Regions from separate parts of the Homo sapiens genome. Here regions 1 and 3 are each linked to region 2. The links come from fine-mapping of genetic effects on gene expression. A gene starts in region 2. Each other region holds a variant in brackets. All regions are shown on one strand. Distances are from middle to middle.

What was found.
Region 1: its variant is fine-mapped to the expression of CCDC159 in visceral fat (GTEx, PIP above 0.99).
Region 3: its variant is fine-mapped to the expression of CCDC159 in whole blood (INTERVAL, PIP 0.97).

The regions. Positions count from the first base shown.
Region 1 is chr19:11,633,383-11,641,555 of GRCh38, reverse strand. No RefSeq gene overlaps it. Among named protein-coding and RNA genes, the nearest start is that of ZNF627, 40 kb to the right of the region's middle. RefSeq lists a silencer at 1,795-1,884. The variant G/A (reference allele first, on the strand shown) is at 3,600.
Region 2 is chr19:11,342,523-11,350,695 of GRCh38, reverse strand. CCDC159 (coiled-coil domain containing 159) reads right to left here and starts at 4,177. Exons shown (of 11, transcript NM_001080503.3): 1 at 4,069-4,177; 2 at 1,009-1,042; 3 at 670-758; 4 at 497-578. The coding sequence starts at 4,089. It overlaps TMEM205 (transmembrane protein 205), which reads left to right and starts at 4,428. Exons shown (of 3, transcript NM_198536.3): 1 at 4,428-5,176; 2 at 5,281-5,444; 3 at 7,576-7,918. The coding sequence starts at 5,077. The coding sequence ends at 7,881. RefSeq lists enhancers at 1-226, 4,077-4,907.
Region 3 is chr19:11,445,601-11,453,748 of GRCh38, reverse strand. It overlaps PRKCSH (PRKCSH beta subunit of glucosidase II), which reads right to left. Exons shown (of 18, transcript NM_001289104.2): 9 at 7,399-7,477; 10 at 6,589-6,675; 11 at 6,131-6,310; 12 at 5,960-6,056; 13 at 5,458-5,527; 14 at 5,120-5,209; 15 at 4,761-4,835; 16 at 4,574-4,673; 17 at 4,321-4,483; 18 at 2,781-3,103. The coding sequence ends at 4,337. ELAVL3 (ELAV like RNA binding protein 3) reads left to right here. Exons shown (of 7, transcript NM_001420.4): 7 at 1-2,423. Among named protein-coding and RNA genes, the nearest start is that of PRKCSH, 14 kb to the right of the region's middle. RefSeq lists enhancers at 743-1,513, 1,438-1,557, 1,588-1,637. The variant C/T (reference allele first, on the strand shown) is at 3,584.

The DNA.
Region 1 (8,173 bases), 290 kb before region 2:
TCTTCAGTCAGCCCCAGGCAGTTCTGAAACCCAGGACCAGGATAAGATGGAGGGTGAGTTGAGGACACATCGCCCTGTAAAGTTTCCAAAGATAAACCTCAACCCAAAGACATTCTCAGAAGGTGTCCGTGCCTCGGGCAGATAAAAGGAGGAGAGGCATAAAGATTGTTTACAGCAAGTGTCAGGTGCTTTTTCTCCGCTTCCTCAAGTGTGAAATGTTCACAAACACACAACAAATCTTTACAAAAAGAGCCATATTTTGCCCTCTTAAAAAAAAAAAAGCCTATTAAAATATTGCGTGTGGCCAGGCGCCATGGCTCACACCTATAATCCCAGCACTTTGGGAGGCCTAGACGGGCGGATCACCTGAGGTCAGGAGTTCAAGACCAGCCTGGCCAACATGGTGAAACCCCGTTTCTACTAAAATACAAAAATTAGCCGGGCATGGTGGCACGCGCCTGCAGTCCCGGCTACTCGGGAGGCTGAGGCAGGAGACCCGCGAGGTAGAGGTTGCAGTGAGCCAAGATCGTGCCACTGCACTCCAGCCTGGGCAACAGAGTGAGGCTCCGTCTCCACCAAAAAAAAAAAAATTATATATATATATTTAATATATATATAATTCATATATACATGAAAAACGTGTGAGGACGGTTGCAGTGGCTCATGCCTGTAATCCCAGCACTTTGGGTGGCTGAGGAGGGTGGATCACCTGAGGTCAGGAGTTTGAGACCAGCCTGGCCAACACGGTGAAAACCCGTCTCTACTAAAAATACATGAATTAGCCGCGCGTGGTGGCGGGCGCCTGTAATCCCAGCTACTCGGGAGTCTGAGACAGGAGAATCGCTTGAACCCAGGAAGCGGAGGTTTCAGTGAGCCGAGATTGCGCCACTGCACTCCAGCCTGGGCGACACAGCGAGACTCTGTCACAAAAAAAAAAAAAAAAAAAAAAAAAAAAAAAAAATATATATATATATATATATATATATATACACACACATATATACATATATACACATATATATATATATACACATATATATATATACACACACACACACATATATATGGCTATGTTTGAAACAAAGCCTGGGGGACGAAGAGTTGACATTGTTGTGGTGAACTGAAGAGGAGGCCAGCTCTAAAACGCGGAGCGGGATCTGGAAATCCAGGGATTTGCTGGCAGCCCTAGGAGAAGCTAGGCCAGGGATCACAGTTGCGGATTTGAGACCCTGCTTCGCATATATCTGGATATCTCAGTAAAAACTCGAGCCCCTTGGAGACAAAGGAGGAACTGGGGACCCCACAGACCGCTGCTCCTTCCACATGAACCCCACACCCGAGGAGGATTCCCCCCATGACCCTCCCGTGTCCCCGCACAATCTAGGGAGACGCGGGGCTGCGGACGCGGAGCTGCCCAGAGAGGACTCCGGAACCTGGGCCGCAGTTGCCGCGCGGGGACCGGACAGGACGCCCGGAGTCCTGGCTGCAGGCCCAGCCCCACCCTGAGGCCGAGAGGACCGAGGACCGAGCTGGGCCAGGGCACTCGGGTCCTCAGACCCCAGAGACAACAGCGAGGAGGTCTGGGTCCCGCCACAGCCGGTTCCGGTCGGTTACAACCAGCTGTACCCTGTCTCGGGAACCCCGGCCTCGGACACTCACCATTTCCCGGCTTCCGAGGTATTCCGGTTCCTACCTACACCTCCGGCTGCCAGTACAGGTTCCAGCCCGACCGAGCAGGGAGCCGAGCGCGGGTGACAGAGAAGACGCCGCGGGCTTTTTCAACCTCGCATCCTCCAGCCTCCTGGACGCCTGATTGACAGTTCTCACGGCCCCGCCCAGCGGCTCTGATTGGATAGTACTCCAGGTCCCGCCCCCTAGGCACTGAGCGACAGAAGAAGTGATCTCCCAGTGCTGAGTGGAGCCAGATGAACAGGTTGCAGACACAGCTCTTGGCATGGGGCGGGCGGGGGAGGGGGGGTTCCTCCCTGGGCAGTGACCTGACCCCTCCCGGGGAATATCTGCATTTAAGAAGAATTCCTGCCAATAGTCTGCGAGCCCTTCCTGCTTCTTCCTCCGGGACTGGGGGGTCACAACTGTGTGCAGGGAATCCCAGACTCACTGTCCAGTGGAGACATCCCCTGGCCTCGGAGCAGAAGGGGAGCCGAGGCCACACAGGCCACACTGCAGTAGGAGAGGGGGTCTGATGTCCTCCAGGGATCAGGAATTTGGGATGAAGCTGCTGGCTGCATGACCAAGCCTTTCTCCCACCTGATCTCTCAGTCTTATTTTTTTATTTTTTATTTTATTTTTTGACGGAGTCTCGCTCTGTCGCCAGGCTGAAGTGCAGTGGCGCGATCTCGGCTCCCTGCAACCTCCGCCTTCTGGGTTCAAGCGATTCTCGTGCCTCAGCCTCCTGAGTAGCTGGGATTACAGGCACGCGCCACCACCCCCAGCTAATTTTTGTATTTTTAGTAGAGGCGGGGTTTCACCATGTTGGCCAGGATGGTCTCAATCTCCTGACTCGTGATCCGCCCCCCTCGGCCTCCCAAAGTGCTGGGATTACAGGCGTGAGCTACCGCGCCCTGGAGTCTACTCGTTTTCACCAAGAAAATAAAAACACAGCAACAATGGAATAAAATTGTTAAATGTGTGGAAAAACTGGAATTATATGGCAGCAATATTCTATGAAGGAATCAAAAGAGAAGAAAAGCAAAAACATGAACTAGCTCAGAGAAGCAGTTTTTCAGCCACTGTTCAGCAGGAAACCCCCTATTCAGGAGGTTAAACAGATTCTTGGGAGCCAGGTTCTGACTGCTGAAACAGAGCCCCAGAACCGATCAGAACCTGGTGATGAGGCCTGAACACTGAAGGATTTAACTCTAGGCTCTCAACATGCCTTCCTGTCCTGTCTGCATAGTGTGGCAACACTCTCTCCTTCCAGACCTTCATCATATTCTCTCTTTTTTTTTTTTTTTTTTTTTTTTTGAGACAGAGTCTCGCTCTGTCGCCCAGGCTGGGGTGCGATAGCGCGATCTCCGCTCACTGCAACCTCCGCCTTCCGAGTTCAAGGGATTCTCCCGCCTCAGCCTCCAGAGTAGCTGGGATTACAGACACCCGCCATCATGCCTGGCTAATGTTGGTATTTTTGTAGAGACAAGGACACCGCGCCCAGCCCCAGACCTTCATTTTCACCAGCAGGAAACTCACCTGGAGTCAGTTTAAGGTACTGACTGACATAAATTGTCAAATTCATAAACCTTTTCTCCATAAGGTAATCCAATGGGTCTTGACCTTAACAGATTTTCTACATATATCAAATCACACTCCGACTCCAGCTATTCTATGTGTAAACCAAAAATAAAATTCAAAGCCCACCCCTCTCTCCCAAACTGAAGGATTCCCCTCTCGGCTAAGGGCATCCCAAAGTAAACCTGAAAATCTAGAAATCTAGTTCAGGCCACGATGGAAAGCAGGGGTCAGACCGGTAGTCCCATCTTAGCACCTATGGTCCCAGTGATCCTCAAGTGGGAGGATCACTTGAGCCAGGGAAGTCAAGGCTGCAGTGAGCTGTGATTGTGCCACTGCACTCCAGCCTGGGC[G/A]ACAGAGTGAGACTCCGTCTCAAAAAAAAAAAAAAAAATTATAATAAGTGTGGATGAGGACATGGAGAAACGGGAATCCTTGTGCACTGATGTAGAGAATGTAAAACATTGCAGCCACTGTGTAAAACAGTATGGCTGTTCCTTAAAAAGGTGAATTTAGAATTCCCCTGTGACTATTCAACTCCTAGGTATATATCCTAAAAAATCAAAAGCACAACACACAGAGACACATGTACACCAATTTCATAGCAGCCTTATTCAGAATATTACTGTGGAAAAAACCCACATGTTTATCAACAAACAAATGGATGAGCAAAGGGTGATTTATCCCTACAATAGAATATTTTCAGGCACAAAAAAGCAATGAATTACTGACACGTTAACACATGCATGCAACTTGAAAACATTATGCTAAGTGAAATAAGCCAGAGACACCAGAATAAATATTGTATACTTTCACTTATATGAGGTGCCTAGAATAGTCAAATTCATAAAGGGATAAAGTAGAATAGAGATTATCAGGGCCTGTGAATAGAGGAGAATGTGGAGTTACGTGCATGAGTATGAAAATTTAAGTTAAAAACATTGGCGGGGCCAGGTGCGGTGACACATGCCTGTAATCCCAGCACTTTGGGCGGTTGAGGTGGGTGGATACCTGAAGTCAGGAGTTTGAGACCAGTCTGGCCAACATGGTGAAACTCCATCTCTACTAAAAATACAAAACAAAAATTAGCCAGGCATGGTGGTGGCCACCTGTTATTCCAGCTACTTGGGAGGCTGAGGCAGGAGAATTGCTTGAACCCAGGAGGCAGAGGTTGCAGTGAGCCAAGTTCACGCCTCTGCACTCCAGCCTAGGTGACAGAGCAAGACTCCATCCCCCCCCAAAAAAAATTAAGTTAAATAATAGCCAGGCGTAGTGGCATGTGCCTATAGTCCCAGCTACTAGGGTGGTTGAGGCAGGAGAATCACTTGAGCCCAGAATCAGTTGGGGTTGCAGTGATGAGTGATTGAGCCACTGCATTCCAGCCTGGGTGACAGAGTGAGATTCTGTCTCAAAAATAAAAATACAAAAAATTAAAAATAAAAGGCAGTTTTCTTTTCTTTTTTTTGAGACAGAGTCTCACTCTGTTGCCCAGGCTGGAGTGCAGTGGCACGATATCAGCTCACTGCAACCTCCACCTCCTGGGTTCAAGCGATTCTCCTGCCTCAGCCTCCCCAGTAGCTGGGATTACAGGTGCATGCTACCATGCTGGGCTAATTTTTTGTATCTTTAGTAGAGATGGGATTTCACCATGTTGGCCAGGCTGGTCTCAAACTCCTAACCTCAGGTGATCCGCCTGCCTCAGCCTCCCAAAGTGCTGGGATTGCAGGTGTGAGCCACCACGCCTGGCCCTGGCAGCTTTCATATCTCAAATATTGAGTTAATTTTATACATATCCAGAATATCAGTCACACCTAATACTTACCTAATATTGATTGATAGAATGACATTAAAATGTCATTAATTGTGTAAATTTTAAAAAATTTCTTCTCAACACAAGATCTCACCATGTTGCCCACGCTGAACTTGAAGTCTTGGCCTCCAGCAGTCTTCCCACCTCAGTCTCCAGAAATGCTAGGAATGGCCGGGCACGGTGGCTCACGCCTGTAATCCCAGCACTTTGGGAGGCTGAGGCGTGTGGATCACGAGGTCAAGAGATCGAGGCCATCTTGACCAACATGGTGAAACCCTATCTCTACTAAAAATACAAAAATTAGCTGGGTGTGGTGGCGCGAGCCTGTAATCCCAGCTACTCAGGAGGCTGAGGCAGGAGAATCACTTGAACCTGGGAGGCGGATGTTGCTGTGAGCCAAGATCACGCCACTGCACTCCAGCCTGGCGAGAGTGAGACTCCATCTTTTTTTTTTTTTTTTTTTGAGACAGTGTCTCCCACTGTCGCCCAGGCTGGAGTGCAATGTCACAATCTCGGCTCACTGCAACTTCTGCATCCCGGGTTCACACGATTCTCCTGCCTCAGCCTCCTGAGTAGCTGGGATTACAGGTGCACACCACCACACCCGGCTAATTTTTTGTATTTTTAGTAGAGACAGGGTTTCACTATGTTGGTCAGGCCGGCCTTGAACTTCTGACCTCATGATCCGCCCGCCTCGGCCTCCCAAAGTGCTGGGATTACAGGCTTGAGCCACCACGCCCGGCCGAGACTCCGTCTTAAAAAAATAAAAATGCTGGGATTACAGGCATGAGCCATAATGCATGACCAAGACACTCATTTTATACCCCAAGACAAAAAATACTCGAAATGGAATGGAAGATGATATACTTTAAATGTACATCCCCGCAAAATCTCACATTGAATTGCAATCCCCAAGGTTGGAAGCAGGGCCTGGTGGGAGGTGTTTGGATCATGGGGACAGATCTCTAATGAATGGCTTGGGCCATCCCCTTAGTGATAGGTGAGCTCTTCTTCTGAGTTCGCACAAGGTCTGGTGGTTTGAAAGTGTGTGGCACCTCCCCTCTACCTCTCTCTCTCGTTCCTATTTTGCCACGTGAGAGGCCTGCTCCGGCTTCACCCTCCACCAAAAGTAAAAACTCTGAGGCCTCCCCAGAACCTGAGCAGATGCCAGCACCATGCTTCCTATAAAGCTTGCAGAAACATGAGTTGATAAAACATTTCTTTATCAATTATCCAGCCTCAGGTATTTTTATGGCAAAGCAAGAAAAGCCTAATACAGAGGTAAAAAGGTATTCCACGCAAATAGTAACCAAAAGAGAACAAGAGTGGATATGCCATTATCATACTTGACTAGACTTTAAGGCAAAACCTATTTAAAAACACAAAGAACGCTATCTTTTGTGTGTGGGGGGGTACATAGTAGGTGTATATATTTATTGGGTACAAGAGATATTTTAATACAGGCATACAATGTGTAATAACCATGTATTAGTCCGTTTTCACACTGCTGATAAAGACATACCTGAGGCTGGGAAGAAAAAGATGTTGGTCGGGCACGGTGGCTCACGTCTGTAATCCCAACGCTTTGGGAGGCTGAGGTGGGCAGATCATGAGGTCAGGAGTTCGAGACCAGCCTGGCCAAGATGGTGAAACCCCGTCTCTACTAAAAATACAAAAATTAGCCAGGCATGGTGGTGCAAGCCTATAGTCCCAGCTACTCAGGAGGCTGAGGCAGAAGAATTGCTTGAACCCGGGAGGCGGAGGTTGCAGTGAGCTGACATCATGCCACTGCACTCCAGCCTGGGTGACAGAGCAAGACTGCATCTCAAAAAAAAAAAAAAAGAAAGAAAAGAAAAGAAAAGAAAAAAAGAAAAAGATATTTAATTGGACTTACAGTTTCACATGGCTGGGGAGGCCTCAGAATCATGGCGGGAGGCAAAAGACACTTCTTACATGGCAGCGGCAAGAGAAAATGAGGAAAAAGGAAAAGCAGAAATCCCTGATAAACCCATCTCACTACTATGAGAACAGCAGGGGAAAGACCATCCCCCATGATTCAATTACTACCTCTGGATTCCTCCCACAACATGTGGGAATTCTGGGAGATATAATTCAAGCTGAGATCTGGGTGTGGACACAGCCAAACCATATCATTCTACCCCTGACCCCTCCAAATCTCATGTCCTCACATTTCAAAATCAATCATGCTTTCCCAACAGTACCCCAAAGTCTTAACACATTTCAGCATTAATCCCAAAGTCCACAGTCCAAAGTCTCATCTGAGACAAGGCAAGTCCCTCCCGCCTATGAGCCTGTAAAATCAAAGGCAAGCTAGTTGCTTCCTAGATACAATGGGGGTACAGGTATTGGGTAAATACAGCCATTCCAAAGGGGAGAAATTGGCCAAAACAAAGGAGTTACAGGGCCCATGCAAGTCTGAAATCCAGCAGGGCACTCAAATTTTAAAGCTCCAAAATGATCTCCTTTGACTCCAGGTCTCACATCCAGGTCACACTGATGCAAGAGGTGGGTTCCCATGGTCTTGGGCAGCTCTGCCCCTGTGGCTTTGCAGGTACAGCCTCCCTCCCAGCTGCTTTCACGGGCTGGTGTTGAGTGTCTGCAGCTTTTCCAGGTGCACAGTGCAAGCTGTCAGTGGATCGACCATTCTGGGGTCTGGAGGATGGTAGCCCTCTTCTCACAGCTCCACTAGGCAGTGCCCCCAGTAAAGACTCTGTAGGGGGGGCTCTGACCCCACATTTCCCTTCTGCACTGCCCTAGCAGAGGTTCTCCATGAGCACCCCACCTCTGCAGTAAACTTTTGCCTGGACATCCAAGTGTTTCCATACATCTTCTGAAATCTAGGTGGAGGTTCCCAAACCTCAGTTCATGACTTCTTTGTACCTGCAGGCTCAACACCATGCGGAAGCTGCCAAGGCTTGGGGCTTCAACCCTTTGAAGCCACAGCCCAAGCTGTACGTTCGCCCCTTTCAGTCACGGCTGGAGTGGCTGGGACACAGGGCACCAAGTCCCTACATTGCACACAGCACGGGGACCCTGGGCCTGGCCCGTGAAACCACTTTTTCCTCCTGGGCCTCCGGGCCTGTGATGGGAAGGGCTGTG
Region 2 (8,173 bases):
AGCTGATCCCAACAGGACCAGCTTCCAGCCTGACTTTTTTTCTTTTGAGATGAAGTCTTGCTTTGTTGCCCAGGCTGGAGTGCAGTGGCGTGATCTCGGCTCACTGCAACCTCTGCCTCCCAGAAAGCAATTCTCCTTTCTCAGCCTCCTGAGTGGCTGGGACTACAGGTGCATACCACCACGCCTGGCTAATTTTTGTATTGTTAGTAGAGATGGGGTTTCACCATATTGGCCAGGCTGGTCTCGAACTCCTGACCTCAGGTGATCCACCTGCCTCAGCCTCCCAAAGTGCTGGGATTACAGCCATGAGTGACAGCACCTGGCTTTTTTTTTTTTTTTTTTTAAGTAGATATGGGGTTTCACCATGTTGTCCAGGCTGGTCTCAAACTCCTGACCTCAAGTGATCCAACCTCTTTGGCCTCCCCAAATGCTGGGATTACAGGCGTGAGCCACCACGCCTGGCCTAGCCTGACCTTGATCTCTGGTCAGTCCTCACCTTCAAGCTGCTGAATCTTGATTTGCTGCAAGCAGCTCTCCTTCTCCAACATGGTCACTGAGTGGTTCAGGAACTCGAAAGCCTGGGGGAAAGAGGTCAGCCTTGGGGTGGGAGGAAGGAGGGGAGGGCAAGGAGAAACAGAGGTTGCTGGGGGCAGGGCCAAGGTGGTTCACCTTGGTCTGGGCCTGTAACTGGCTCTTGAGTGACTCAAGTTCACATCGCAGGAGCTTCTGGGAGTCGGGAATCATCACAATGGTCTTGGCTGTGGGCAGAGAAGAGGGTGAGCCAGGGCTGTAAGGGGTGGGGTCTGGGGCAAGGGCAGGGCAGAGGTCAGCAAAGGCTCAGAGTAGCAGTAGGGACAGGGGATAAGATATAGAACAGGGGCCCACTCAGCCTTGGGCAGGAGTGAATGGGTGACCATGGCAGGGGGACAGCTGATGCTGGGGCAGAGGGTAGAGGTAGAAACCAGCAGGTCTTCCCCACACAGTTTTGTTGGAAAGGAGATTTCTCACCTTTGACTTTGGAAGAGCTGGTCTCCAAGGGCTTCTAAGGAAGAGAGATGAGATGGGAGTAGAAATTTGTCCCTGAGCTGCCTCCTTGCTCACCTCAACCCAGTTTTGAGGGCTGGACAAGAGTTGGATCTCCTCAGTTCTAGGTGTCCCAAACCGTAAGTGCAGGCAAAGCTGCACTCCAGGCATATTCATGCACCTCCCCCTTGGGCTACATATGCTCAGAAGTGCACTTATGTGGCTGAGAGACGATCACAGCCAAATCCCCATGGAAGACACACAACCACACTCTTTCCTTCCATTCATTCCTTCATCCATTCATTTAAGACTTGCTTAGCCAGGGCCTGCTGAGTGCCAGGTGCTGTTCTAGGTGCTGAAGAAACACAGTGGGTGCATTCATGGGAGTCTCTCTGCCTTACAGCCCCTTCCCTAAGCCCCACAGCAGTAGATTGCAGTGGTTTTCTGCATTGAAGGGGTTTCCCGGGTGGGGGTGACCTTAGCTACGTTGTGATGCCTCTTCAAAATGTCCTGGTCATTACAGCACTGCTTCTGCAGGTCTGGACTGGGGGAGGGGGCAGCCTCATGTGGCGAAGGCCCTGAGCCCCACCCTGGCCTGCAGTCTGCAGTCCTCACTGTGTCCCCAGAAGCAGGGCATCCCAAGGTCTCTGGCTCTGGAGTCCTGGACCAGTGAGCTGTACGCTCCAGAGCCTTGTCCGAGGAAGAGCCTAGGGGTGAGGGCTTCCTTGAGGGACAGTGCAGGGCACTCCTCACATTCCCAGCCCCTCCCAGTGTCCCCAGCCCTATGGGAGCCCCCTAACTAACCCCAGTACTTGTCACACTTCATGTTAGCAGGCAAACACATGCTGGAGGGTGAGGGAGGTGAGTAGAGGCAGGACACAGAGTAGTCAGGGTCCCGGGGTAGGCCGGCCAAAAGAGGGTCGCTGTGAGTAGGGAAGCAGGGGCTGCTTTGAGATAAGTCCCCATGTCCCCAGTGCCCCCAGACCCTCCCTGACATGCCAGAGAGGCCTCAGCCCTAAACTCAAGGCTTCTCAGTTATGGTAGGAGCCAAAGCTGGATAAAAGATGATCCCAAGGCCAGACGCGGCCAGCAATGGTGGCTCACGCCTGTAATCCTAGCACTTTGGGAGGCCAAGGCGGGAGGATCACTTGAGGTCAGGAGTTCGAGACCAGCGTGGCCAATATGGTGAAACCCCGTCTCTACTAAAAATACAAAAACTAGCTGGGCATGGTGGTGGGCGCCTGTAATCCCAGCTACTCGGGAGGCTGAGGCAGGAGAATCACTTGAACCCGGGAGGCGGAGGTGGCAGTGAGCCGAGATTGCACCACTGCACTCCAGCCTCAGCAACAGAGTGAGACTCAGTCTCCAAAAATAAAAAACAACAACAAAAAAGATTATCCCAGCCCCAAGGTTTGGGCTGGGCAGTGAGAAGGACCCAGAAGGCCCCAAAGAAAAAAAATCAGGCCTCAGAAGAGTCCAAAGAAAAAAGGGACCTTGACATTGGCTTAAAGGAAGGCCTTTCCTGGCAGGGAGCAGCATGTGCAAAAGCTTGGAGGTGTGGAATCACATGCTCTATGCTGGTAAATTCATGATGGCTGAATCGAGGTCCGAGAGGAAGCAGCAGGAGGTTAGCAGAGCAGCTCCAGTAAGGCATTGACGGCCAAGCCAGGAGTTTCGACCTGGCCCCACAGGTGAATGCCAGCCATAGAGTGTGAGCAGGAGAGGCAGGGCATATCTGTTCAATAAATGTTAGCTGAATTGGGGCCCAGACCCGTGCTAGAAGAGGCTGGAAACAGGAAACAGCTGAGCTCTGGGTCTCACATTCAACTCCCCTCCCCCTCCAGTATAGCCACATATGGCACAGATGGAGATATCTGGGGCAGGTCTGCCTGGAGAAACTTCTAGGTGAAAGGCACCTTGCCCTGAGTCACACTCAGCCTCTTCCCCCAAATCCTCTAGACCTTTCTCTCTGTCACCCTTGCCAGGCCCTCTGCCTGATTCAGTCGACCTGGAAGACTCCTACACGCTCTTCAGAACTACTCAGGCTGGGCACGGTGGCTAACACCTGTAATCCTAGCACTTTGGGAGGCCAAGGCAGGTGGATCACCTGAGGTCAGGAGTTCGAGACCAGCCTGGCCAACATGGAGAAACCCCATCTCTACTAAAAATACAAAATTAGCCAGGCGTGGTGGCGCATGCCTGTAATCTCAGCTACTTGGAAGGGTGAGGCAGGAGAGTCGCTTGAACCTCAGAGGCGGAGGTTGCAGTGAGCCGATATCATGCCACTGTGCTCCAGCCCGGGCAACGAGAGCGAAACTCCGTCTCAAACACAAACAGACAAACAAAAACTATTCAGCATATCTTCAGTAAAATCTTCCTTAATCCTTTTTTAGGCTCCTATTTTCTGAGCACCTAATTGAGTGCCGGGCATCCCCTAAGCATTCACTGGATCTTCACACCCACCCTGTGATGTACACGTTTTTCTTCTGCCTGAAATGTCCTAAGCTGCCCCTCCGAGAGTCACTGCCTCAGGGAGGTCCTCACTTCCAGGGACAGCAGAGTATGACGGTTAAGCAGGGAAACTCTCCAGCTAGATGGCCTGGGTTCAAATCCTAGCTCTGTCCCTTCCAGCTGTGTAATACTGGTCGCGTTACTGAACCTCTCCATGCCTCAGTGTCCCCAACTATAAAAACGAGATGTCATAATAGTCACCTTACTGGGATGTTGTGATTAGATAAATTAATCCATGCCAGTGCCTGGTATAGAGTAATGGGGAGCTGTGTTTGCTCTGGAATGTCACGCTGAGAACCCGGGACTTAGGGACCATAGGAAGCCTGGGAGGCTTGGAGGGGAAAAGGAGAGGCATTTGAGAACCAGCTTAGGTCCCCAGTAGTGCCTCCTCTCTCCCCGTCCCATCCCGGTTGCTGCTTCCGTGTCCCTCCCGGGAGAATTATTTAGGGAGGGGGCGGGGTCATCATCCTGGCTCCGCCCCCTGGGTTGTGAAATCTACACCCGCCAGGCTCCAGAACCCCACCTACCACATACCACCTGTTCATGCTCTCCCATCAGGGACCACGAAGCCAGTCCTCAGCTGTGACGCTGAAGTTTGATCCCGCGGGGACACCATCGTATTAAAACGCTCAGAGACTGAGTCACAGAGAGGGGTGTGGCCGGCATTTTAGTTCCGCCCCTGCCGGAGTAGCCGAAGGCCTCATTGGCGCCTTCACGCTTCAGCTGCGCTTAGTAGCCGCGGCGTAATTGGATAAAAGCCCGTGGAGGGGGCGGGATCCCAGGGGGGTTTCTACGATTAGTCAATACCCAGGAGGGCGGGATAGAAAGGTGCAGATCTACGACCCGATTGGCTTCGGGCTCAGCTGGGAGGCGGGACGAATTATTGGTTGGGGGAAACCCACGAGGGGACGCGGCCGAGGAGGGTCGCTGTCCACCCGGGGGCGTGGGAGTGAGGTACCAGATTCAGCCCATTTGGCCCCGACGCCTCTGTTCTCGGAATCCGGGTGCTGCGGATTGAGGTCCCGGTTCCTAACGGTGGGATCGGTGTCCTCGGGATGAGATTTGGCGTTTCCTCGGGGCTTTGGTGGGATCGGTGTCCTCAGGATGAGATTTAGGGTTTCCTCGGGGCTTTCGGGATCTTCACCTAATATCCGGTATTATTTTATGAGAGGAGTGGTCTTGGCTGTCAGAACTGGATCCCTGGGGTGATATTTGGGAATTAGTGGAGTGATCTCTGAAGACCTAGGGCTATGATCTGGAGCTGCTGTGGCTGAAATTTGGGGCCTCTGAAGTGGCATGGAGATTGAGGTCCAGAGAGCCTGAGATCTTGAGGGCTGACATTTGGAGAGATGGGGTCGAGGGTTGTCTTTGGGCCTTGACTGCTTTGGGCCTTTCTCACTCTCATTCCCGGGATGCTTTGCCAGAATCTCTGCTGGATTGGCCGTAACCCTGTCCCCGAGCGGGCTCACAGGGTCTGAAGGCCACGCATGAGGCAAAGGTAAAGTTCTGAGCCACCCGGTGCCTCCTTCCCAGGACTGCAAGATGGAGGAAGGCGGGAACCTAGGAGGCCTGATTAAGATGGTCCATCTACTGGTCTTGTCAGGTGCCTGGGGCATGCAAATGTGGGTGACCTTCGTCTCAGGTAGGGACCCTCAGCTTGGATGTCATGGGTACCTGGGGTGGGGATGGAAATAAGAGGGGAACCGGGAAGTGCCCTAACACCCCTGTGGTCCCCATACCCTGCAGGCTTCCTGCTTTTCCGAAGCCTTCCCCGACATACCTTCGGACTAGTGCAGAGCAAACTCTTCCCCTTCTACTTCCACATCTCCATGGGCTGTGCCTTCATCAACCTCTGCATCTTGGCTTCACAGCATGCTTGGGCTCAGCTCACATTCTGGGAGGCCAGCCAGGTACGTGGGTTTGAGTGCCACTGCCCTCTGGAGACTTGTTCCCAGGACCTCAGTCAGCGCCTATGGCTACACCTTTTCCAGGGGGGGAAAAAAAAAGGCTAGGCATGGTGGCTCACGCCTGTAATCCCAACACTTTGGGAGGCCGAGGTGGGCGGATCACGAGGTCAGGAGTTCAAGACCAGCCTGACCAACATGGTGAAACCCCGTCTCTACTAAAAATACAAAAAAATTAGCCAGGCGTGGTGGTGTGCACCTGTAATTCCAGCTACTCAGGAGGCTGAGGCAGGAGAATTGCTTGAACCGAGGAGGCAGAGGTTGCAGTGAGCCGAGATCATGCCATTGCACTCCAGCCAGGGCGACAAAGCAAGACTCCATCTCAAAAAAAAAAAAAAAAAGGAAAGGAAAGGAGAGGAGAGGAAAGGAGAGGGGAGGGAAGAGGAAGGGAGGGGAGGGGAGCCCCTTCTTCCTGGTAGATACAAAGCTGGGCTCTGGATACCCTTGAGCAGTGCACAGCCTGTACAACAGTCCCCAGCAGCCCTGTCTATCCCCCAGCATCTCCCTGCTAGCTGCTGTTCCCTCTCCTCCCGCTGGCTGGGCCTGCTGCCAAGCTGTGGTGACTCAGCTGAGCTGGCACATTGACCCCAGCTTATTGTTTAAAAACCAGCCCGACTGGGAATTTATGGTTTCCTATCCCCTTCCACACATTTTTCTGGCCACAAGGCAAGAAACTATCTCTGCATCTCAGATTTCTCTATTTACTCTGGCCTTCCCTTGCCTGCATTATGTTTCATAGACGTGGGTAAGTGAGACCTGACAGGTGTTTCAAGAATAATCTCACAGACAGGAGGGGATTATGGGTAACTAGAACTTCACAGACTGTTTTTTTTTCCTTTTATTTATTTATTTTAATGAAACAGGCTCAGAAGGTATTCAAATACTTAAAACAGATAGAGATGGTGTTATAGCAATGTGAGAATGGCAAAAACATTTTTCCTAATTAAAAAAAATAGGCTGGGCGCAGTGGCTCATGCCTGTAATCCCAGCACTTTGGGAGGCTGAGGTGGGTGGATCACGAGGTCAGGAGCGCGAGACCATCCTGGCTAACATGGTGAAACCCCGTCTCTACTAAAAATACAAAAATTAGCTGGGTGTGGTGGTGTGCGCCTGTAATCCCAGCTATTTGGGAGGCTGAGGCAGGAGAATTGCTTGAACCCAGGAGGCGGAGATTGCAGTGGGCCAAGGTCACGCCATTGCACTCCAGCCTGGGCAACAAGAGTGAAACTCAGTCTCAAAAAAAAAAAAAAAAAAAAAGATGAGGGTCTTTGCTGTGTTGTTCAGGCTGGTCTTGAACTCCTGGCTTCAAGTGATGCTCCCACCCCCATCTCTGAAAGCACCGGGATTACAGATTACAGGCATGAGCCACCATGCCTGCCTTCAAAGACTTTTTGTTTTGTTTTGTTTGTTTTTGAGACAGGGTCTTGCTCTGTCGCCCAGGCTGCAGTGCAGTGGTGCAATCTTGGCTCACTGCAACCTCTCCTTCCCGGGTTCAAGCAATCCTCATGCCTCAGCCTCCTGAGTAGCTGGGATTACAGGGGGACAGCCCCCACACCTGGCTAATTTTTGTATTTTTAGTAGAGACGGGGTTTTGCCCATGTTGCCCAGGCTGTCCTTGAACTCCTGGCCTCAAGTGATCCACTCACCTCAGCCTCCCAAAGTGCTGGGACTATAGGCATGAGCCACTGCGCCCAGCCACTCAAAGACTTTTTATTCACCCTCTGTGGGTCCAATGTCAGCTTCAGGCGTCTGGGCTGTGGCCACTGAGGAAAGAGATCCTGCTCTGGGGACTTCCAGTCTGAGTATCAGAGGAGAAGAGGCTCGGGAGGTTTTGCGGGGGGATAGAGGAGGTGGGGATGGAGCCTTTCCTTCAGAGCTGCCAGTTTCAGAGTAGAAGAGCTGGAGTTCTGCTTTGGGTCCCTCAGTCTGGGTTCAAGGAAAGAGGGGGAGGCAGGTTTTTTGATCCAGTGCTGTCCCCACCCCCACCCCTGTGCTGTTGAGGATGCAGAAAGACCCTCCCTAGGGCCCCTCTGGCCTCCCAGGCATGGCTCACCTTCTCCTCTGCTCTCCCTGCCAGCTTTACCTGCTGTTCCTGAGCCTTACGCTGGCCACTGTCAACGCCCGCTGGCTGGAACCCCGCACCACAGCTGCCATGTGGGCCCTGCAAACCGTGGAGAAGGAGCGAGGCCTGGGTGGGGAGGTACCAGGCAGCCACCAGGGTCCCGATCCCTACCGCCAGCTGCGAGAGAAGGACCCCAAGTACAGTGCTCTCCGCCAGAATTTCTTCCGCTACCATGGGCTGTCCTCTCTTTGCAATCTGGGCTGCGTCCTGAGCAATGGGCTCTGTCTCGCTGGCCTTGCCCTGGAAATAAGGAGCCTCTAGCATGGGCCCTGCATGCTAATAAATGCTTCTTCAGAAATGGCTGCTGTCTTTTTTTTTTCCCCCATGAGAAGCAGGGGGAGGGGCAGGCAAGGGTAGAGCCAAGAGCCTCAGTTTCCCCATTCATGAAGCATGATGGTTTGGAGTGTCAGCCATTTTATCCTGTAAGCCTCTCCTATAATGATGCCCATTTATTGAGCACCTGCTGTATACCAGACATGTTGTTAACCACTGACATATCATGTATTATTTGTTTTGTTTTGTTTTGTTTTGTTCTGTTTTGAGACGGAGTTTC
Region 3 (8,148 bases), 100 kb before region 2:
GGGGCCACACAGAGAAACAACCACGCAGACAGTCACACCACGGGGACACACGGACAGACGCAGACGGACACAGCGACATGCCCCAGACACGTTAAGGGACTGGTTGGCCAAACTCAGACACGTGGACAGGGATAGACAGAAAGAGACAGAAGCTGGGGCTACGTCCATGTGGACACAGACCACAGATGTGGGCACACGAATCCATCCACCTGTCCACGTGCACACGTGAATGTAGCGATAGATATTTGGACATCAAATTTGGACACCAGGTCACGGAGAAACACAAACACCACCCAGGAACACGCAGACATATGCCCATAGCATCCCACAGGCCCAGGCAGGAGGTCCCACCCCAGACCCTGCCCCAGACGCTCCCTCACCCTCTCGGCCCCCTCGCCCTGGCCCCCAGGTTCTCTGCAGAGATCTCTCCTGGACCCCCAGCGGTCTCCTTGGCGCCCACGAACACAGGCGTGCACACGCAGCGCACATGCATTGAGACACACGATACCTCGTTCCACCTTGGCGTCACGGTGGGCTGGAGGCAGCCCCCCCCCCCACAACACTTGAGGCCAAAGGACACCCCTGTCCCCGGGGCTCAGCCTCCCCCTGGGCCGAGGCCTTGGCCCACACAGCTGAGGGAGAGGCCCAGCCCTGAGCCTCCCCCACCAGGACTGGGCCTCCCCGGCAGCAAGACCCCGGCACTCCCCGCCAGGCCCAGGGTGGGGTGGATGGGCCCAAAGGCCCAGCCCCACACTCCTTTCCCGTCCACTTGTCACCTACCTATCCCCTTTCGGTTTGTTGGGTTTTTCGTCTTTCCAGATTGCAGTGGACACAGCCCCCGATCTCGAGCCCCGGCCCCCGGCTTCTGTCTGGACATTGCATCGCCCTAGTTTTCTTTCTTTAAAAAAAAAAAATTCCAACAGAAGCCACAGGCCGGAGCCCCTGGGAGCCCTCGCACCGCTCCCCACCCCACTCAGCGGCCCCATCGGAACTGAGAATTGCAAAACCCCCGACTTTAGCTATAGTTAAGTTGCCTTCCCCCGGTGTCCCCACGTTTGGTGTCTGGCTATGGCGCCCCCATCTGACTGTCCAGCTCTCTCTCCCCCACCCCTCCCGGTGTTGTTATTAAACGTCTGTGGAGCTTCTGCTGCAAGGAACAAAAAAGAAAAAAATCAAAAAAGCGACAAAAAAACACAAACAGAAGAGGAAAAAAAAGCAACAAAAAAAGAAAACACACAGAAGAGATTTAAAAAAAAAAAAGGAAAAAAAAAAAAGACATAAACTGGCACCAGTTAACTTTCTTGTACTTTTTTGCTGAATTTAGCTTCTTGTAGTTTTAACTTATTGCTATGTTAACTATTTATTCTCCTCGTTGCCCTGTAAGGACATCCGTGTATATTTCTGTTACTTCATCCGGTTTGCAAGTTAAAGGAACGACAATGTTCTCTTTGTTTCTTTAAGTTTTGCCGAGACATGGTTATGCCTAATTTATTTATAAAAGGGGAAGTGGAATCATTAAAGTAATAATAATTATTAATAACAGTAATGGTAGCCGAGTGGCACGCGGGGGCGTGTGCTCTGCGGGACAGTCCCCACGGCCAGCGACGTCCAGGTCACCAATGGGATTCTTTTTGCTCTTGTCTTGAGAATTTTTTCAGTCCTATTTAGCTGGTGAAATCCCTAGCTTGTTCTTGATACACGAACCTATTTATTCTCGTGGTTTTAAGTCCTCCCTGCCCTCTCTCCTCTCCCCTGCAGCAGGGCAGGGACCCCTCTCCCCTGCTGTCTCTTGGGGCTCTCTCCCCTCCGCCCTCTGCATTCGGGAACACGCACGTCCGCGTGGGAAGCTTGCAGCAGGGCGTCCGAGCAATAAGGGCTGGGTTTGTCCCCCACCCTGGGGGGGGCCAGGCTCCAGAGAGGGGGCACCTCCCCACACACCCCCCCCCCACCGAGGCCTAGGCCCCTGCCACCCCCAAGACTGGGAGGGGACTTCTTTTTCTAAAACACAAAACTCAGCCCAGCCAGGCCCCCTCCCTGGAGGCCAGCCCCTCCCCGCAGGGGGCCAGGCCGGGGCTCCCAGGCGAGGGGGACTTGGGGCTTCCACGTCCCTGGGGGGCAGGGGCCAGGCCAGGGGGGAGGGGGCTCAGCCCCTCCACCCCTCCCTTCATCCTGTTATTTATTCGGAAGGTTTCAAATCACGACAGAGTCCATGTTGGAGGTGATAAAAAACTGTAAAAAAAAAAAAAAAAAAAAAGACAAAACAAAAGACAAAAAAAAAAAAAAAACCCAACAAGAACACTTCGCGTTGCGTTTAGACTATTTATTACCGGGATCACAGGCCTGGCCGCGGTAACAGACTTTTACATGGAATTGTTTAATTATTTGTACTTTTCATGCCAGAAAATAAAAGTTCAGAATCTTAAGGCCTTGGGTGATCTCTGCACCGCTGCGCGGGGAGCACGCAGGAGCAGCCTGTGTAGTAGCGCCCAGGCCCCCGTCCTTCTCTGGGCCTGGGTCTGTCTGCAGCAGGGGCTTTGGCCCCGGGAGGGAACCCTTGGCCTCCACAGAGCACAGATGAGACCCAGGGAAGGTGGGACACGGGCCCGGATGGATGCTCAAGACAGAAATGGTCCAGGGTCCATCCACCTGGTATCTTCAGGAGTGATCCCCAGATGGTGGGGGAGGCCCGGGTGGGATCTGCAGAAAGCTGCGTCCCCTGCGCTCAACCCCTGCCCACACCCCGGTCCACACCCCAGCAAAGCGAGGCAGACACAGACAAGTTTGGGTGGGGGATCACATTTATTGTATTGAGGTCACAGGTCAAGTCATTCACTAGTCCCCACTAGGAGGGGTGGCAGGGACAGGGCTGGGGGTGGTGGGGCGAGTCACCAAGGTGGGGGGCCCAGGGAGGGCAAGCTCCTTTACCCATCTTTGAAGGCTGTTGGGGCCTGGGAATGTGGACCAGCCCCGCCTGGGCCCCAGAGCAGGGCACGAAGCCCCACAAAGGTCCTGCCGCCACAGAGGAGGGCAACAGAGCCACAGGCAGGCCCAGAGGGGCGGGTGGACGGCACTGCAGGGGCTGGCTTCATGCCTTCTTGAGGTTCTGGGGCAAGAGAAAGACCAGATTAGAAAGCTGGGGACAGCTGGACATGGTGATGTTTGCCTGTAGTCCCGGCTGCTTGGGAGGCTGAGGTGGGAGGATCATTTGAGGCCAGGAGTTGACCAGCCTGGAGACCTTGTCTATTTTCTCTTATTATTATTATTTTTTTTTTTTGAGAGTCTCACTCTGTAGCCCAGGCTGGAGAGTGCAGTAGCATGATCTTGGCTCACTCCAACCTCTACCTCCTGGGTTCAAGTGATTCTTGTGCTTCAGCCTCTTGAGCAGCTGGAACTACAGGCACCTACCACCACACCCAGCTAATTTTTTTGTATTTTTAGTAGAGATGGGGTTTTACACCATGTTGGTCAGGCTGGTCTCAACCTCCTGACCTCAAGTGATCCGCCCACCTCAGCCTCCCAAAGTGCTGGGATTACAGATGTGAGCCACGACGCCTGGCCTATTTAGTTTCAAAAGTAAAAAAAT[C/T]TTTTTTTAAAAAGCAGGGGATGGCCAGACATGGTAGCTCAAGCCTGTAATCCCAGCACTTTGGGAGGCTGAGGAGGGCGGATCACGAGGTCAGGAGATCGAGACCAACCTGGTTAACACAGGGAAACCCCATCTCTACTAAAAATACAAAAAAATTAGCCAGGCGTGGTGGCGGCGCCTGTAGTCCCAATTACTCAGGAGGCTGAGGCAGGAGAATTGCTTGCACCCAGGAGGTGGAGGTTGCAGTGAGCCGAGATCGCGCCATTGCATTCCACATTCCAGCCTCGGCAACAAGAGTGAAACTCCATCCAAAAAAAAAAAGGCAGGAGATGGCCGGGTGTGGTGGCTCATGCCTGTAATCCCAGCACTTTGGGAGGCCAAGGCAGGTGGATCATCTGAGGTCAGGAGTTCGAGACCATCCAGGCCAACATGGTGAAACCCCATCTCTACTAAAAATTAGCCAGGCATGGTGGTGCACACCTGTAATCCCAGCTACTTGGGAGGCTGAGACAAGACAATTGTTTGAACCCGGGAGGTAGAGGTTGCAGTCAGCTGAGGTCGCATCACTGCACTCCAGCCTGGGCCAAAGAGTGAGACTCCACCTCAAAAAAACAAAACAAAAAAGCAGGGAACATGGGGACACAGGTTGATAGAGTGGCCATGTGGGTCCATCTTCCTCAGGGCCCGCCGCCTCCCCTTGCTGGGGCAGGCCGACGAGACTCCACCTCCCCGCCCACCTCTGCGCCCATCCAGCTAGAGCTCGTCATGGTCGTCTTCGGTGGGTGCTTCAGGCGGTGGCTCCGGGCAGGCGGCTGGCGTCATCAGCTCCATGAGGTACTCGCAGCGACTGGGCTCTGTGGTGCTGGTCACCATGGTCTCTTTCCCGCACAGGAGGCGCACCTGGGGATGGGCAGACGGGTGCTCGAGAGGGTTCGGCTGGGCCAGGCCTGGGTCTCCCCGCCCCAGCTCCCCTGCCTTGCAGGCACTCACGGTGGTGGAGCGGTTGGGGCCCTGCCAGCAGCCCGTGCCTTGCTCATACTTCATGGCACTGAACTTGTCGTGGTCGGGGCCAATCCATGAGCCCCAGGTGCTGTGAGAGACACAGGGTGCTGAGGGCTGGGCCGGTGTCGGGGCACCAGGAGGAGGCAGAGGGAAGGGGCCAGCCCAAGCCACTCACCCAAGGCTGGTGGGAGAGCCCCCGAGTTTGGGTTTCTGCGAGACAAGCTTGAAGGGGCAGAGGCGGTAGACGTATCTGTGGAGGACCGGGACATATGGGTTGGGGAACGCAGGGATTCCAGCCTCCTCCCACAGCCACCCCCCACCGCCTCCTCCAGTCCCCACACACAGGGTACCTCCAACTCCAATGACCAACCCTAAACCTGGCCCCTGGCTTCTGCTCCCCCTCAATATGGAAGGCAGCACTCTCGGGCCCCACCCGCAGATGGTTCCCCAACCATCAGGAAACTGCCGGTGCCACTTCCGGGGCCACCCGCCTCCCACCCTGCCAGTGGGGGCCCCTGCATTCCTGGGACGCACTCGTTGGTGGTGAGCTCGTAGCACTGGCTGTACAGGTAAGCAAACTCCCCGTTGGGGCCAAAGTCAAAAGAAATCTCTTGCTCCAGGTTCCTGGAAGGGGAGGCGGAGCGGTTAAGGGGCAGCTGGGGACGCCAGTGCCTGACCCAGGACGACAGACACAGGAGGGTCTGGCTGAGCAATGGTGCCCAGGCTGTCCTCCCTGCCACCTCCCAGGGACCCTCCCTGCAGGGACCAGGCCCAGCCTGTGGTTGCCTCAGTGATTCCCCATCACCAGCTCCCCTGGGAGTCAAGGAGCAGTCGCTGTGGGACAGGTGTCCCCGCTCCTCAGCCCCCGCTACCTGATGGACTCCTCCATGTCCTTCAGCGACCGCTCGGCCTCCTCGAACTTGTTGCGGGCCTCCTGGGCAGCTGGGAGAGGGGTTGGAGGTCAGAGATGTCCTCAACCCCATCCAGGAGGATGGGGAACGGGGTTCCATGGATGTGGCTGTGTGCTCCCATACCCTCATTTTGCTCTGGCCAAGGACTTCACCCCGACAGCCTTGAGGGCCTCACCAGCTATAGAGCAGCCCCGACTTGCTGCCCAGGCTCCCAGCTCCTGAGCGAGTGGGGCCAGGAGTGACACAAACAAGCTGCGGCCCTTGGGGAGGCAGAAGGGCCCCTTGGGGCTGGCGAGGGTGGGACTGGCTTACCCTAGGCCCCCTTCCTGGACTCCCCAAGATACTGGGGCTTGTGCTGGCCGAGTCAGAGCAGGGTCTAAGCTCAGGATCTTCCCTCGACCTGTGCCACCACGGCAGGAAACGCTGGGCCCACCCGAGGAGCCTGGCCCCCGCCCACCCTCACCATCGATGAAGGCCTGCGTCTGCTCGTCGTAGGGCGGCATTTTGTCTTCCTCAGCAGGGCTGGCCGGCTGCGGGGGTGACAGTGGCGGTGGGGCCTCCTGGGGCAGGGGCAGGGTCAGTGAGTAGCCCTTCCCCCACCCTCTCTGTCTCCACTTCTCCCCCAAACACGGACCTTGGGCTGCTCCCCCTGCACCTCGGAATCCTCCTCCTCCTCCTCTTCTTCAGCCTCTTCTTCCTCCTCCTCCTCCTCCTCCTCCTCCTCCTCTGTGGGCGACGAGGGCACTGGCGGCTGCTCCTCCTTGGGCTCCGTCAAGTCAGGGGCAGAAGGTGCTGGAAGGTCGGTGGGCAGTGCCTGGCGGGTGAGCAGTGCGGTCGGTGTTGTGGACTCAGGGTCCACCCACACCCTCAGGCTCACACCACAGCCCAAGGGGCAGCCTCGGTGTCTCTGCCCCTCCTGCGGGGCCTGCAGGGAGGACCGACAGCTGGGGTCGGGGGGTCTCGGTGGGGGGTGCTGGGGCCACCCAGCTGGCCAGGGTGGCCAGGTGCCAGAACCAGAGGCAGCTCCTTTGTGAGGCGGGGTGGGGGCAGTGTGGTGGGAGGACCAAGTCCCCTCCCTTCTCCTCCACTGACCTCGGACCGGTACTTGTCCCTGATGGCGGCCCAGACGCGGTCGTAGAAAGAGGTGGCGTCTGTCTGTGTGTCCCCACTGAGGAGGGCCTGTGTGTGTTGGGGGTGGTGTCAAGATCTAGGCCACCACGTGTCCCCCATCTCGGCCACCCCGGCACCCGGGCTGCGGTGCCAGGCACGGGAGGGCTGGGCCCCGGGCCCTGATGACCAGGCCAGGGCCACGCCAGTGAGGCACTGCGGCCAGGAGGGGGCAGCACAGGCCCGTGGGAGGGGAGGAGGAGACCAGGGGCTGGAGTGGTTGGGGGCACTGAGACAGAAAGAGAGAAGCAGATGGACAAACGGACGTACAGATGGAGGAAGAGAGAGCCCAGGACCAGAGAGGGCCAGGCCCTCCAAGGGAGAGGCCAAGGCCCAGGCTGCAGATGGAGAGGGAGAAACCCAGGGGTGGGCAGAGAAGGGAGGCCAGAAGCCAGGGGCCACGGGGAAGGAGGAGGATAGGAAAGGAGACAGACAGGGGACGAGGGTGTGGGGGAGGAGGGGAATAGGGCAGGACAGGGGTGGGGGAGGAAGGGGATTGGGTGCTCAACAGCGGGTAGAGTGGGGGCAGGTGCGGGGAAACGGGCTCCAGCGCGACCTGGCTCCATCCCGGGTCCTGCCAGGCGGGAAGCGGCCCTGAGTGGCTGCCATCCCAGCTCACCCAGAGGAGGCATCCCAGGCCAGCAAGGAGCTTTCCTTGGTCCCCCTCCTGTGCCCTGAGGTCACCCTGGGGCAATGCTCCCTAGAAGTCCCCAACCAAGGGGCAGCCGGGGGTACCTGAGCTTCCGCTTCTGACAACGCCCCATCCCCATCTGTGTCCAGCTCCGGGTGAGTCTGCAGCTCAGTCACCGAGACCCTGCGGGGGCGTGGCAGAAGCAGACTGGAGGGGTGAGGCCCCAGTGGCTCTCAGTTGGGGGCACCATGTGGCCCACCTGTTCTTCCCTGCAGGGCCCCACCCTGGAACTTGCTTCAGGACCTCAAGGTGTAGGGGCCTCCCCACCCTCCTGCCCCCTCCTCAGGACTCCATGACCCCAAAGGAGCTCAAAGTAAGGGGTGGGACTGGGAGATACCTGGACCCCCAAATGTCCGATGACCTCTCTACCAACTCACCCAGGTGGCACCTCCTTCCACCCCAGGACCCGGCACATTGAAGCTGCCATCTGCCTTGGTCCCCCACCCAGCAAAGCCCACCCCCACCCTTGCCCATTCGGTCCCTCTGAAGCCCCCTGCTCCTTGGCACCTGACATCTCCTAGGCTCCCCGTGTGCCTCTCAGCCCCCAAAAGTCCACCCTCCACCAGGTAACCCAGCAAGCTCAGAGGCACAGCCAGGATTCGAACCCAGGTCTGGCTTTCCCCAGAGCGTAGTGGGGCTGGGAAAAGCCATCCGATCACTAGATGCCTAGACACACTCCCTGAGGCTGAGGGTCTGTGCCCAGCTCCTGGGGAGAGGGTGGTCCCCCTATCTCCTCGCCCAGGGCATCCTGGACCTGGCCATCCACGAGTAAGAGGCGGGGTCACACGGGGCTT